Linked DNA regions of Homo sapiens. The protein of the gene in region 1 purifies or fractionates together with the protein of each later gene. This does not show direct contact. Each region holds a gene or a part of one and is shown on either strand. Other genes may lie near its edges.

Region 1 (3,651 bases):
AGATCACTTGAGCCCAGGAATTCCAGACCAGTCTGGGCTACACAACAAGAATTCATCTCTGTAAAATATTTTTTCAAAATTAGCCGGGTGCAGTGGCATGTGCCTATAGTCCCAGCTACTTGGGTGGCCAGGGCAGGAGGATTGCTTGAGCCCGGGAGTTTGAGGCTGCAATGAGCTGACTGGACCACTGCATTCCAGCAGTGGGCAACAGCATGAGACCCTGTCTCTTTAAAAAATAAAATAAAATAAAATTCCTTTGATAGAAGAACTGCTTTCTGAATAATTTTCAGAACTTATTCAATCCTTTATTAAAATTATGTATCGAAAAATAAGTATATGCATTTCCTTTCTTGCTACTTTTATTAAAACAGATAAAAACAATTTTAAAAATTAATTTTGCATAAAATTTTACCAAGTAACTACTGGATATTGCCAGAAATTAGTTTTACCTGTTGTACATTTATCAATATTCATATTTTTCTATACTCCTATCATGCTTAATGTATATTCTCCTTTAGTGTAATCAATGTAAAATGTATTCTAGAAAGGTAGAGGCCATATCTGTTTCAATTCAAAATATGCAGTTCAGCAAAGTAGTAAATTCAAGTCAGCCCAATACTTTGATGACTATGTTGTCAGATATCTAAAAATCTTCACCTGAAAGTGTTGAAATAGTCTCAAATGTTGTTTCCAAAGTAGAAGCAACAGATGCTACTTTATCTGCCGCCAGTACGTAGAGGTCTCCAGACTTAGAACATTTCACAACAGCATACCTAACATAAAATTTTAGGAGAAATTACTAATAATGAAACAAGAAAAGCCACAGATATCATTTTAATTTTTAAATAATCATTTTAGAAAAAACTGACTTCAGGCCAGCGCGGTGGCTCATGTCTATAATCCCAGCACTTTGGGAGGCCAAGGCAGGTGGATCACCTGAGGTTGGGAGTTTGCAACCAGCCTCACCAACATAGAGAAACCCCATCTCTACTAAAAATACAAAATTAGCCTGGCGTGGTGGCGCATGCCTGTAATCCCATAATCCCAGCTACTCGGGAGGCTGAGGCAGGAAAATTGCTTGAACCCGGGAGGTGGAGGTTGTGGTGAGCCAAGATCATGCCACTGTACTCCAGCCTGGGCAACAAAAGGCAAAACTCGGTCTCCAAAAAAAAAAAGAAAAAAGAAAAAACTGACTTCAAGATCAAACTGTACTATTTTCAAAACACTTTGTAACTTATACTTCTATTTCATTTTCCCGAAAAGCTGGATAAGGTCATAAAAAGGATCACCTAAAGGTTAATAAAATCTATATGAACATAATAACTAAGTTATAATTCATTAAATTTTACAATAATAAACAGGATAAAATAAATTCAAAATAATGTTAATAATGGAATACATTCTATTTGTGTATAAAACAAAAAATGCAATAATATACCCACTTTGATTCAGGCATATAGCAAACAGCTTCATTGGCTGGAATCGTCCAAGGTTGTGTGGTCCAGACCAAAATACTAACAGGAGATGAACCATCTGTGAAAATACAATTGTAAATATGTTAGCAAATGGGATAATTCTATAACTTTGGTACACTCAAGCTATGAATAAATCTTACCTATAAGAGATGCCAATTTTGGAGAAGGCTTTAAGAGAGGAAATTTTACATATATTGAACGACTGACATGCTCAGGATTATATTCAAGTTCTGCTTCAGCCAATGCAGTCCTAAGGGTTAAAAATATTAAACATAAATACTTGGAAGCCTCACAAATTTCTCCCTTTTAATTACCGAAAAATGCATATATACCTAGATGACGGAGACCAAAACACAGGTTTGTAAGATCGATAAACCAAGCCCTATAAAAGACAAAAATATGATGTTAAAAGTAGAATCTTGTAACGCATACTAAAACCTACTCAAAGAGAAAAAATACTTCTTTACCTTATCATACATTTGGTAAAAAGTTCTCAACTGTTTGGCTTCATACTTCCCATCAAATGTATAGTAGCAATTATTCCAATCTGCCATTATTCCCCAACGAATAAATGCTGATTTCTGTTTCTCAATGGCTGCTTTAGCAAATGATCTAGCTAAAAAAAAGACGAAAAAAAGATTTTAAAAAACCAATGAATTCGAATTCTTAAACATGGTTTAGCATGTATCTCTCTAAATGCAAATGCTACAGACAGTTTAGAATGCAAATTTTTTTTGAGACACAGTCTCGCTGTCACCCAGGCTAGAGTGCAGTGGCGCGAGTGGCATGATCTCGGCTCACTGCAAGCCTCTGCCTCCCGGGTTCACGCCATTCTCCTGCCTCAGCCTCCTGAGTAGCTGGGACTACAGGCGCCCGCCACCACGCCCGGCTAATTTTTTTGTAGTTTTAGTAGAGACGGGGTTTCACTGTGTCAGCCAGGATGGTCTGGATCTCCTGACCTCGTGATCTACCCGCCTCAGCCTCCCAAAGTGCTGGGATTACAGGCGTGAGCCACGGCGCCCGAGCACAAAATTTTTTTTTTTTGAGATGGAGTCTTGCTCTGTTGCCCAGGTTGGCATGCAGTGGCGGATCTCAGCTCACTGTAACCTCTGCCACACAGGTTCAAGCAATTCTCGTGCCTCAGCCTCCCAAGTATCTGGGACTACAGGCGTGAGCCACCATACCTGGCTAATTATTTGGTATTTTTAGTAGATACGGGGTTTTGCCATGTTGGCCAGGCTGGTCTCAAACTCCTGACCTTAGGTGATCGATCCACCTCCCTCAGCCTCCCAAAGTGCTAGGATTACAGGCATGAGCCACTGTGCCCAGCCTATAAAAATTTTTTAATAGAAAAATAATTTGAAGGTCAACAGTGTTCAGAAGATACCTACAACAAATTCTAAAATTAACTGGAATTGCAAAAGTTAAAATTTTATTACTGTCTTCTGTATTTTCCAGACTTTATACAATGACCTCATATTTAGGACAAATAAACTGGAAAAATTATTCCTTATTGTTTCTTAATTTAAGAAAAGGTCAGATAACAATTTTCATTTCATTATACACAAAAAATTAATCAGAATATCAAATCTAAGCCAATGATAATAGGTTTCACAAGGAAGTAAAAAAATCTTCACAGTTACATCCAAATGTACAATAGTATAACATATAAGAAAAAGAGAATCCTCCCTTGGCCCAGTCGACTGAAGAAAAAGGATCAAATAAAAGATTAATGTAAAATATATGTATTTTAGAATTGAATTTTGGCTTAACACCTAAAATCAGTCAACAAGCCCCCTTGAGGAAAGCAGAAAAAAGAATTTACCAAAAAATAGTTTTTTAAAATATGAACATTAAGAAACTGAGAATGCAATCAGAAATGCTCACAAAGTCTTTCCTTCAATATCCAAACATAAGTTCTTACAAAAATCAATGAAATAAAATCTGAATTTTCTGTGACAGAAAGGCGTTTCCAATAGATCTTATTATAAGCAAACGAAACCCAAACAAAAGGTTCCTTTGGTAAAGTTCTGACTATTTCAAGGACCTGAGTGTTTACAAATATCATTTTAAAACAGAAATACAGATTATTTACCTTTCTTTCTAATTTCCATAGCTGAAAGATTCTGAGCTTCTCTACCAAGTTCTGATAATACTTTTATTTCAATGGGCAACC
Region 2 (3,651 bases), on another chromosome or scaffold:
CCCCTTGCCCCTGAAGAAGGAAAAGGACTGTATCTCTACCAGAGGAGGACTGGTGAGCAAATCGCTGGCGAGGGCAAGGCTAGGAAATATGCCTGCCTCTCAGGGTCAGGAACATACTGCCTAGCTCCAGGGAAATCTCAAAAGCCAGGCAAATATCAAGAAAATCCTAAATTCTTTCTAATACCCAGGGCCTTCGGAGTTTAAGAAAGTGAGAAATACCTTCTGGTGAGTCCAGTAGAGTTGACTTCGAAGCAGATCACAGGTCAGGGAAAGGAGCAGGTATGTGTCAGTAGTCTGATCGAGATGCTTCAGGCTCGATGCTGCCTCTTCCAGGTGTAACTAAGGAAGCAATCAGAGGGCACATGAGGAAAGGCAGCCAGGCTCTTCAAACAAAACTGGAGTAAATAAGGGTGGCCATGTGGCTCACACCTGTAATCCCAGCACTTTGGGAGGCCAAGGTGGGCGGATCACCTGAGGTCAGGAGTTCAAGACCAGCCTGGCCAACATGGTGACACCCCCATCTCTACTAAAAATACAAAAATTAGCCAGGTGTGGTGGCACGCGCCTGTAATCCCAGCTACTCGGGAGGCTGAGGCATGAGAATCACTTGAACCCGAGAGGCAGAGGTTGCAGTGAATGGAGATCGCGCCACTGCACTCCAGCCTGGGCAACAGAGTGAGACTCCGTCTCAAAAAAAAAAAAAAAAAAAAAGTGGAGTAAAGTATTTACAAGCAAAATGTTCAACATGTCCAATAAATATTACATTATTTCAGATATTATAATCTGCATAGGAGTTATTGATTCACTCTCTAAAATGTCCATTTAACACTTGGTTAACCACTTTTTTTTTTTTAGGACGGAGTTTCGCTCTTGTTGCCCAGGCTGGAGTGCAATGGTGTGATCTCAGCTCACCGCAACCTCCGCCTCCCGGGATCAAGTGCTCTCCTGTCTCAGCCTCCCAGGTAGCTGGGATTACGGGCATGCGCCACCATACCTGGCTAATTTTGTATTTTTAGTAGAGACGGGGTTTCTCCATGTTGGTCAGGCTGGTCTCCAACTCCTGACCTCAGGTGATCTGCCCACCTCAGCCTCCCAAAATGCTGGGATTACACGTGTGAGCCACTGCGCTCAGCCTGGTTAACCACTTTTAGATTAAAGCTATATACAGAGTAAGCAGTAGCTGGGCACGGTGGCTCATGCCTGTATTATCAGTACTTTGGGAGGCTGAGGTGGGAGATCACTTGAGCCCAGGAGTTCAAGACCAGCCTGGGCAACATAGTGAGACTCTGTCTCTACAAAACATTTAAAAATTAGCCAGGTGTGGTGGCATGTACCTGTAGTCCCAGTTACTCGGGAGGGTGACGTGGAAGTGGAAATGGAAATGGAAATGGAAATGACACCACTAAAAACAGAATGCTATAAACAGAATGATGTCTTCTGTTTCCAAAGTCAATATACTAGAGTGATGCAAAAATAGTAAGAGTGAGATATTTTGTGGCAAAGTTATCCAGGGGTAAACACTGCAGCCGTAAGCGCTGGCAAGTATTATTGGGGCAAAAGGGAACAGGGTTAAGCAGGAAAGAGATTACATCACACCTGTGCCTACCAGTGGTCGTTAAGAAGACGAAGTAGAAAAGGGAGAAACTGGAGGCAAGGAGACCAACCAGGAGACACTGTGATAGCTTTACATGAGCAATGAAGCATCAACTAGGGCAACAGAACCAGTTAGGAAATACAAGACTGGCGGTAGGTTCCTGCAGCAGTCTGTAAACTTAATGAACAACTGGTTTTGCAGGAAGGACAAAGATGACTCCCCTTCTTACAGCTGCCTCCAACTGCTCCACACTCCACAATTCTCCAGCCAGTTGTGGTGGTAAAAGGCCGAGAAGCTGCCCCTTTGATATCCTGTCTTCTCAGAGGTGGGCCTCTAAAGCTACGGGCCCCCTGCAGTCCCCAGACTAGGCTGGTTGGGCACTCACCTGGGCATAGCTGGGACAGCCGAGGGTCAGGAGGAGCTGGGTGATGTGGCAGGAGGAGCCAGCTGCCTTCGAGTGGTCCTTCAGTCTCTCAGAGACAATCCGTAGCAGCAGGAGGACCTCCAGAGCCTGCATGGGCTGGTCAGCAGAAGCAGCCAAGTTTACTCCACCCCTGCTCAAGCCTCTATTTCTACCCTCTGCTCCCCAGCCCTTTGGGACCTTGGACTGTAGTTTGACCTCAGGGCCTGGGTGGAATGTAGTTACCCAGATGAAGCAATCATCACCCCACCCCTACTGTTTTAAAGCCTAGATGCCATTCATCATCAATAGCCAGGATTTTCTGAGTTCTTACTATGTGCCAGGCACTGTGCCCAGGCTTACATGCATCAGTGCATTTAACCTTCATAACAAGTCTAATCCCAATTTTACAGTACAGGAAGCTAAGACTCACATGGGTTAAGTTGCTTGTCTAAGTTCATATAACAGGTATGTGGCAGAACCAAGTCTCAAATCTAGGGCTGAGGTAGCTTCCCCTGCTAGAAATATGGTTTAATAGCTCATAGTTAACAGCATGTATAAAGGCTTTTTGTTTGTTTGTTTGTTTCCTAATGTGGAGTCTAGGGTAGAGCTTCAGGAATTTTGTGAAACTCCCTGAAATAAGAATGTACATGGCCTTATAGGCCAGGCACAGTGGCTCATGCCTGTAACCCCAGCACTTTGAAAGGCTGAGGCAGACGGGTCACCTGAGATCAGGAGTTCGAGATCAGCCTGGCCAACATAGTGAAACCCCATCTCTACCAATAATACAAAATTAGCAGGGTGTGGTGGTATGCGCCTGTAGTCCCAGCTACTCAGGAGGCTGAGTGAGCCAGGAGAATCGCTTGAACCCAGGAGGTGGAGGTTGCAGTGAGCTGAGATCACGCCACTGCACTCCAGCCTGGGTAACAGAGCAAGACTCTATCTCGGCGGGGGGGCGGGGCGGAAAGCTGGGTGCGGTGGCTCACGCCTGTAATCCCAGCACTTTGGGAGGCTGAGGCGGGTGGATCACCTGAGGAGATCGAGACCGGCCTGGCCAATATGGTGAAACCCTGTCTATACTAAAAATACAAAAAAGTAGCCAGGCGTGGTTGCGTGCCTGTAGTCCCAGCTACTCAGGAGGCTGAGGCAGGAGAATCACTTGAACCCAGATGGCGGAAGTTGCAGTGAGCCCAGATTGCGCCACTGCACTCCAGCCTGGGCGACAGAGTGAGACTCCATCTTGAAAAAAAAAAAGAAGGCACACATAAGAATGTAAGAATGTAAAATTGTGTCTAAAGGCATCTATGTATTTTTCTGATAGGTAACAAATCATCTAATAATTAAAGCTAACTTTTTTTTTTTTAATGAAATAGCGTGAAACAGCATCTTGCTCTGTCCCCCAGGATGGAGTGCAGTGGCGCGATCTTGGCTCACTGCAACCTCTACCTCCTGGCTCAAGGGATTCTCCTGCCTCAGCCACCTGAGTAGCTGGGATTACAGGCACATGCCACCGCACCGGGCTATATTTTTTTTATTTCTTGTAGAGACGGGGTTTCGCCGTGTTGCCCAGACTAAAGCTAACATTTGAGCATACCATTTACACAATACCTCTTCCATGCACTGCTGCACTGAATAATAACGCCACGAGGCAGTAGCA

The links. Proteins that work in one complex are often made in the same cells at the same time.
Region 2: the proteins of IARS2 (region 1) and ESPL1 purify together in Homo sapiens (affinity purification with mass spectrometry; 2 studies listed by BioGRID and IntAct, with this or other methods). This does not show direct contact.

The regions. Positions count from the first base shown.
Region 1 is NC_000001.11:220,100,569-220,104,219, reverse strand, and holds part of IARS2 (isoleucine--tRNA ligase, mitochondrial precursor), read right to left. Parts: coding exon 3,571-3,651; intron 2,092-3,570; coding exon 1,943-2,091; intron 1,858-1,942; coding exon 1,808-1,857; intron 1,726-1,807; coding exon 1,616-1,725; intron 1,534-1,615; coding exon 1,443-1,533; intron 774-1,442; coding exon 658-773; intron 1-657.
Region 2 is NC_000012.12:53,278,195-53,281,845, reverse strand, and holds part of ESPL1 (separin), read right to left. Parts: intron 2,115-3,651; coding exon 1,980-2,114; intron 340-1,979; coding exon 220-339; intron 1-219. UniProt on the Homo sapiens protein: Caspase-like protease, which plays a central role in the chromosome segregation by cleaving the SCC1/RAD21 subunit of the cohesin complex at the onset of anaphase. During most of the cell cycle, it is inactivated by different mechanisms.